2 linked regions of the Homo sapiens genome follow. The protein of the gene in region 1 interacts with the protein of each later gene in a pairwise test. Each region holds a gene or a part of one and is shown on either strand. Other genes may lie near its edges. The genes, in order: ADIRF and RPS6KA6.

Evidence for each region.
Region 2: the proteins of ADIRF (region 1) and RPS6KA6 interact in a two-hybrid assay, tested with the Homo sapiens proteins (one large-scale study listed by BioGRID and IntAct).

Annotation. Positions count from the first base shown.
Region 1 is NC_000010.11:86,966,666-86,970,581, forward strand, and holds the start of ADIRF (adipogenesis regulatory factor), read left to right. Parts: upstream 1-1,816; 5' UTR 1,817-1,879; coding exon 1,880-1,940; intron 1,941-2,376; exon of another isoform or gene 2,377-3,534; coding exon 3,535-3,597; exon of another isoform or gene 3,598-3,810; coding exon 3,811-3,916. UniProt on the Homo sapiens protein: Plays a role in fat cell development; promotes adipogenic differentiation and stimulates transcription initiation of master adipogenesis factors like PPARG and CEBPA at early stages of preadipocyte differentiation.
Region 2 is NC_000023.11:84,058,990-84,062,805, reverse strand, and holds part of RPS6KA6 (ribosomal protein S6 kinase alpha-6), read left to right. Parts: 3' UTR 1-3,816. UniProt on the Homo sapiens protein: Constitutively active serine/threonine-protein kinase that exhibits growth-factor-independent kinase activity and that may participate in p53/TP53-dependent cell growth arrest signaling and play an inhibitory role during embryogenesis.

The sequences.
Region 1 (3,916 bases):
GAATATCTGAACCCAAGAGGTTTGACTGTAGTGCCTGCCGCTAGGGCCACGTGGAGCTCTCTCTACCACCATCTGCTGGGGGCTGGCTGTCTCTTCCCACAGAGGCTGCTCCCTTCCTGTCCAGCTCACAGCTCATTGCCCATGGGGCCTGGAGCCCAGTGGCACCACCAGCCTGTGATAAACTGGAACACTCGAAGGCCTGCCTGGCTATTGGGCACTACCGGTGGGATTTCAGGAGGGCTGGCAGGGCTGTGGCCAGCCAGGCAGGGCATGGCTGAGATGGGCTCCCCAGAGTCCCCAAGGCATCCATATGGCCGCTCCCAGGGCAAGGCCTCGCTCTGGGAGAGGAGGGGCGGGGGGCTGGGAGGACTGTTGCTGCCGCTTTGTTTTGCCTGAGACCTGCTCCCTCCCCCTTCCTCCACCTAATCTCATCACCTGCCTCTTCCCTTTGCCCAGGGTTGACCTCATCTCCATTAATCCATACCGTGTGTGTGTGTGTGTGTGTGTGTGTGTGTGTGTGTGTGTGTGTGTGTGTACAGGTGCACTTCCAAACAACTCCCTCTAGGGGCTGACCCCGCAGCACTAGAAGCAGGGTATGTGCCAGCAGACCAAGCCTGTGTGGCAGGGGCTTCCCAGCGCTCCAGAATAGGGGAGACACCAGCAGAGGTGCAAGAAACAGCCCCGGACAGGAAGCGGTAGAGAGACCCAGAAAGGCAGGGTGGGTGTGCACTGGCCTCCAGGTCCTGAAGGCCTACTCTGGAGTGGGAGTATACCCAGCTGGGTGGGGCCTGACCTACACCCCTTGTGTGCCAGGGGAATGTATCTTGCAAGCTGTTTTGCTGCACCCAAGGATGATCTTCTCCACTCAGGCCCAGGTCCCTAAGTCCCCTCCTAACAGCCACAAGTCATACTCTCTAGCGCCTTGCCTGCCCCATCTCAGGAAAGGTGACCTGAGAGGCCCAAGCTTATTCCTGCCCTCCCTGAGCCATGCTTCCTGCCCAACTTCCTAAGGCTTCGGTGACAGACGGCAATCTCCTTGCCTGGGCTGCACAGGCACACTGCCCTCTCCCCCTTGGGGTTGCATGGTCTGCAAGTGCACACACCTGTATCTCGCCCTCTCAGGGGAAAGATTTACCAGGCCCTCTCCGGCTGCATCCACTGGGTCTCTGGCTACAGGCAGAGAGCCAGTCAGCAGTGCCCCTGCAGCTGTTTGGGGCTGGGGGCTCCGATGATGCCAGAGCCCTAGGGTTTACAGGCACCTAGGCAGATTCGAGGATCCAAGTCCCTGCCACATGCGTTTGGGTGAGACCGACCTCACTGCCTCAGTTTCCTCCTATACACTGATGCTATCAACAAAAATACCCACTTCAGGAGGTGGTTGTAAAGATTATACAAGAGACTGCAGAGCGTTAGGCAGCACCTGGCACAAGACAAATGCTCAGTAAAAGACCACTGCTGTCATTAAGGTCAACACCAGCCCTGAGCTCCTGCCCTGGAGCTGACCCAGCGCTCACGCCCAGGATCAGAAAGGGAGGGCTGGGGCTGATGAGCTGGGAGGTGGTGTGCGCCCTTCTCCTGCCTCCAGCTCCTCTCTGGACCCCTGTCCTGGCACCTCTTCGGTCCCTGGTTCGGTCTGCCCCTTTCCCACCGCGGCCCGTCTTAGGCCAGGATGTGCTCCCTGCCCTGCGGACTCTGGAGCAGGGCCCGGCCACTCCCCGGAGCCTGTATGACGGGAACCGCCCCGCGCCCTCTCCCCTACGCGGGGCAGGCCAGCCCTGGGGCGCCTTAAAAACCGGAGCTGGCGCTTGGCATCGCCACTCTGGGCAGGATCCAACGTCGCTCCAGCTGCTCTTGACGACTCCACAGATACCCCGAAGCCATGGCAAGCAAGGGCTTGCAGGACCTGAAGCAACAGGTGGAGGGGACCGCCCAGGAAGCCGGTGAGGATAGCGCGCGACCTAGGGCTCAGGCAGGGGCACCTGCGTGGATGCGCAGGCAGAAGCAGCGGGTCGGCGCGGTCCGCAAGTTCCTGGACCGGCAGCTTGGCTCGGAAGGCTCGGTCCTCCACTGAGACGCAGGGGGCAGGCAGAACGCCCACCCCGGCGAGCAGACAGATGGTGCCCGCAGGGAGGCAGCGGAACAGAGGCTCCGGAGGAGCCGGAGCTGCGCTGCGGGCACTGCGGGAGCCCCTCCAAGGAGGCCATGCTGGCGCTGGGCGGCCCGCCCAGGCCCTCAGGAGAGGGTGAAGGTCCAGGACAGGGATCGGGCGCGGCCCGCCACCACTTAAACCCGCGCGCGCCACCAGAGGCTGCCCCAGACCTCAAAGGGCTTTGTTTCCATCCCACCCCCATCGCCGAAAAGTAATCGTCGCCTTACCTTTAAGTCCCCACCTGGCAAAGAAGGTCCTTAGTTCCTCCACCTCCAGCTCTCTCCTCCGTATTCTGGAGGTGACCCAGCTGCGGTGGGGGCGTGGGAGATGTCAGGAGACCACTGGGTTGGTTCTTCCTGCACCTAGCCCAGGCTTCGTTAGGACTCCAGCTCCCTGTCAGTCCTGCCCATATCCCAGTCAGGAGACAATATCCAAACCAACCCCTTACTTCACCAGTGCTCCAGGGGAGGCCCACAGTTCTTCCCTTGAGACTGAAATGCTACCAAGGAAGCCTCCGTGTCAGGTCCCTTCCTTCTGGGCTTCACTTTTCCATCTGAGAGCTGGGTGCAAAGGATGGGCTGCTTTCTGATGGGTTAATCGAGACGAGGTTCCCAGGGGCCTCTCAGCACACTTGCCTGACTAACCCTTTCCGGAGGATGGGATCTGGGTAAGGCAGGCCCTTTCCTGTTCAGCAGCAGGGATGAGTTACAGCTCTGTAGGCGGGAGCCACCTGTCAGCCCCCCCGGGGCTGGTGACTCCATTCCCAGCAGGCCGAAACTCTGGTCCAGAGGAGATAGTCCGGCCTTGGAAGTTTTGCCTCCTTCCTTCATTTGTCTCCTAATGTCTTAAGCTGCCTGTCCACAGAGGCACTGGCTTTGCTTGTGTGCCCCTCCGGGCAGGCCACAGGAGGGAGGAGGCAGTAAGGACCTGGCAAAACTGCAAGCCCCAGGGCTAAGTGCATGAAAGGTGGGAATTCAGGCATCTGGGCCAGGCTTCTAGGGGAGAAGCTGTAAAAGGGGGCAAGGGTCTTCTGCGCCATCACCAGCATTAGCCAACAGTCCAGATGCTAGCTGCAGCCTGGCCCTGCCCTGCCTTCCTTCCTCTGTCCAACATTTTCTCAGTAGCCCTGGAGATGGAAAGGGAAGCTCCTCCCCCACAGAGAAGGAGCTCAGAGTTAGAAATAAACAAAAACATCCCAGAGGCATGGAAAGGTCTCCTGCCCCTCGGGCTGGGGGGCCCTGGGCCAGGGACTTTATCTCCATGGCATCCATCCCTTGGACCTGTACCACCGAATACTCTGGAGGACACAGAGGCATGGCAATGGTGGGGCACCTGTAGTCGGTGGTGCCTCAACAGGGGCTAAAAGCCACATCTCTCTGTTCCAGTGTCAGCGGCCGGAGCGGCAGCTCAGCAAGTGGTGGACCAGGCCACAGAGGCGGGGCAGAAAGGTCTGGTGGGGCTGGAGGGAGGCGGGCAACCCCAGCACACCTCCCACTCCCCGCCCCATCCCGGCTGGGGCCCAGGCACATCCTCTCCTCTGCAGAGCCCTCTGTCCACAATGCCCCAAGCAGGTCCCCCGGGAGACCCAGGCCAGGCTAAGCCTACAGGCACTGTGGTTCCCGGGCCCTGCCTGACCTGCCCTCTCTCCCGCCCTTCCCCAGCCATGGACCAGCTGGCCAAGACCACCCAGGAAACCATCGACAAGACTGCTAACCAGGCCTCTGACACCTTCTCTGGGATTGGGAAAAAATTCGGCCTCCTGAAATG
Region 2 (3,816 bases), on another chromosome or scaffold:
CTTTATTCAGAGAGAAAGTTGATTACTGAGTGCTGAATTATACAATTTAGGCTAGGAAACTCGTAACTTTGGTATTTAATAAAAGAAACTATACATATTCTGTTTGTAATGTAAATAATCTATACCCCATGCACAAATATCTGTTTCCTGGGTGTGATATATTAAAGTATGTATTCTTATTTTGAGGTATCTTTTGGAAATAATTGAAAGAGATTAAATAACAATTTATGCCACATGAAAAATAATTACTTAGAAGTAGTTAGGTATCATGTCTTATGGCTTTTTATGTTCCATTTTGGCTTTTTTTCTCATTTGCTTTATTACTATATGTACTTGCATGTAACAGTTTGTAAGCATATATTCTGACTTATTTTCCTTCTGTCATTATCTAGTGCTGTTATGCCTTCCTATCAGAATCGATAAGTCAAACTCAGAGGTGTGATTTTGGTGTTGAAGTTTTCAGGACAGAGATACTATTTCCATGGATGCATTTTAAGTAATAAAATTAGGGGAAGTGAAATCAGAAAATGAAAAATGATTACAAAATAACTTTCAGGTTTTCTATAATCAATGGCTTTAAAAAGTAGACAGTCTTAATTAATTTTAAATTAGCTTGCTCAGAAAGGTCATGCCATACAGTCCTATCATAAAAGGAACACTATAAGAATTAAGCAATGAACAGCATGATTTCTGATCACCCAGTGAGGACTGACAGTGTATAAAAGATACAGGTATGCTACTGGATGTACCCGATAATTGTTTGAGAGTTTTCTAGTGAAAAACTCAAATATGCTAGCTTAACCACAGTAGTAGGGGGCAACCTTATTATATGGGAGAGCTTCAAAACATACTGTCATTTTGTAGAAGGAGCCCAGGTAAGGATGCCTAATCCTGTCCAGTTTGGCTAGAACTCCATAGCCAAAAATGCAGATTTGGATTGAACATTTTTTTGATGGGACTTCTATCAATGCTTAACTAGTAAAAACACATCTTTTCTATAAGACTTTAGAATACTGTGGTTTCTAATGGGTTCTTGAATAATGATTTTGCATTGTGTTTTTCTAGTTAATGGTTTTTGGTAGTATTTAATGATAGCACAGTTTGGGGTTTTATTGTTCTTGAAGGGGGAGGATATTGAATTTGTTTTTCTTAGAGAAAACATCAGGTTTGCTCAAATAGACTAACAACCTGTTGTCCTTAAGCACATACTACCATGAATAAACTCAGGAAACAATTTTCAAGAAAATTCGAATGCAGTGCTGGTGATGGGGATTTTTGTGGGAAAAAACAATGGTTTCAAGTCCTTTCACAAAGATCAAACTTCAGCCTATTTTGTTAGACTCAGCAATGTCTAAAACAGTGTTTTTTGTAATTTATTGTCATTGGTAATTCAATATAATAAAACAATTTTGATAGCACCTCTGTTTGGCTCAAAGGGATTCCATATGTTTAGGCAACCCACAACCTTAAGAACAGATGCTTGGTATTTATAATGTCTGCCCATTGGAACAACATGTTAAAATAGTACTGCCCAGAGAAACTTCCATACAGATTGACTAGTATTTTCTAGATAGAGGTCTTTCATATATGAAGAAGGAAAACAACCATTTATCTTGGCCCTAAGGCCCACAAGAAAACTTAGGCTTTAAAGTGGGCAAAGCATATTTGTGGTATTCTGTACATTCTCTTTCTCCTGGCTTTCCAGCCCCTTCATGCTATCTATCTTATTTGAGCACCTCACAGCAATACTCCATCAACGAAATTTACCCTATCCCCAGAAGGATTCTGTGTGATCCTTACTCCTTGTTCCTTCCTCTTCCTCTTCCCCAAATCAGGATATCCATTCTATCAGAACAGACATTTCCAGCTAAAAAGGTGAAAGGAAAGCTATCTTATTAAATTAATTTACATTTTTCTGTCAGTGGCTAATAGTTAATTGGCATTTTTTAAGGAAGTTGTGCATTAATCAAGTTTTTAGTTGCTGGATCTTCAGGCAATCTAACAAGGTGATAATTTTAAATTCAGTTCCTATCACGGAAAATATTTTGGGGGAAAGGAACAGTGTGTCCCAGGGTCAGAGTATCTAATAAACTGTTTCTTTTTTTGCACAATTTCCTTCCTACTTCCTTTCTACTTCTCAATCTACCTTTTCTCTTAAAAACTTTTAAACTTTTTAATCACAATGAACTTCTATGACAAAATGATGTGGAGGTAGACAGAGATTGGCGATTATTTCTGTATATGTTGTTTTTAAACCCATAGTTTTGTATTCTTGTTTCTCACAGTACATGACCTATATAGCATAAGAAGTTTTATTCCCCCCACCCCCCATCCCATTCCTGTTATAAAGAAAAAAAAAAGCACAGAGAGATTGAATCCAAACTACTCATGGAGTCCAAATTTTTCCAGATCCCTTTTCCAGATTTTAGGACCTAGAAATCCTTTAAGTCACAATGTTATTTCAAAAAAAAAAAAAAAAAAATGCAAGCCATATTAAGTATATATTGGCCAACTGCAATTAAACTTCTTTAAAACATTTTTGTTTTACATTTCAAAGCTTATTCAGGCATTTTTGGCATGTACCTCAAGATCAATGATTGTTGAAATTAGCAGAATAAATCAATAGTGGGCTATTTGCCTTTTTATGTGGGAATATAGTGGCATTGATAGTGATTATTCACAACATACATTATACTCATGGATGCACTGTTCCTGGTTTTAGTCTTACAGTGTAGTGAATTCCATCATATACTTTCAATAAAATGTTATGCTTGATCACCTAAAATTCAGTTTGGTTGCTAATACATAAGAGAAAAGGGAACTATACTTGAATATATTAAATTATAGACATAAGTTTCTTTGAAATATTTAGAAAAACAAAAGTTTTAGAATATGGAAATCCAAGCTTACATTATATTGGCAAATTATGTATGTTTCAATTATTCACTAAATAAATTTTAGCTAAATGCTTATAAATAAATATATATATGTAATTGCCAAGTTAGGGTTTGCTTTGTATTCACATTTCTAAACGCTGGACAATAGAGCTTCTGTGGATGACTGTTTTGCTGTAATTCCAACTGTCTAGTTATGGGAACTAATAATTTATTCTTCAAAAGGTATTAAGCATTTAATTTTACGTGGACAATTATAGAGAATGTACTAACTGCATTCGTTTATTAAAAAATTGTCAAAATGTGACTGATTAGGTTACTTTTATCTTTCCTATGAACTAATATTGCTCAGGTCACATTTTCTTTCTCTTTCCAAATTCATTCTCTCTGAAATTGCTGCTTATAACAAATATGTAGTGTTTTGTTTTTTAGTATGATAAAATTATTTTTAACAGCAGGAAAGCAGTCTATCAAGAAACAGCCGGCCGGGCACAGTGGCTCATGCCTGTAATCCCAGCACTTTGGGAGGCCGAGGCGGTGGATCACCTGAGGTCAGGAATTCGAGACCAGCCTGACCAACATGGAGAAACCCGTCTCTACTAAAAATACAAAGTTAGCCAGGTGTGGTGGCGCATGCCTGTAATCCCAGCTACTCAGGAGGCTGAGACAGGAGAATCACTTGAACCTGGGAGGCAGAGGTTGCGGTGAGCCGAGATTGTGCCAATTTCACTCCAGCCTGGGCAACAAGAGCGAAACTCCGTCTCACAAAAAAAAAAAAAAAAAAAAAAAAAAAAAAAGAAAAGAAACAGCCATTTAAAAAGTTACACATTAAACCTTAAATATCCAAATTCCAGCATGGTTTGTAAGTTAGAATTTATCTTGCATTAAATTCCATAGTACAAAAAAAAGGAGAAGGTGGTTT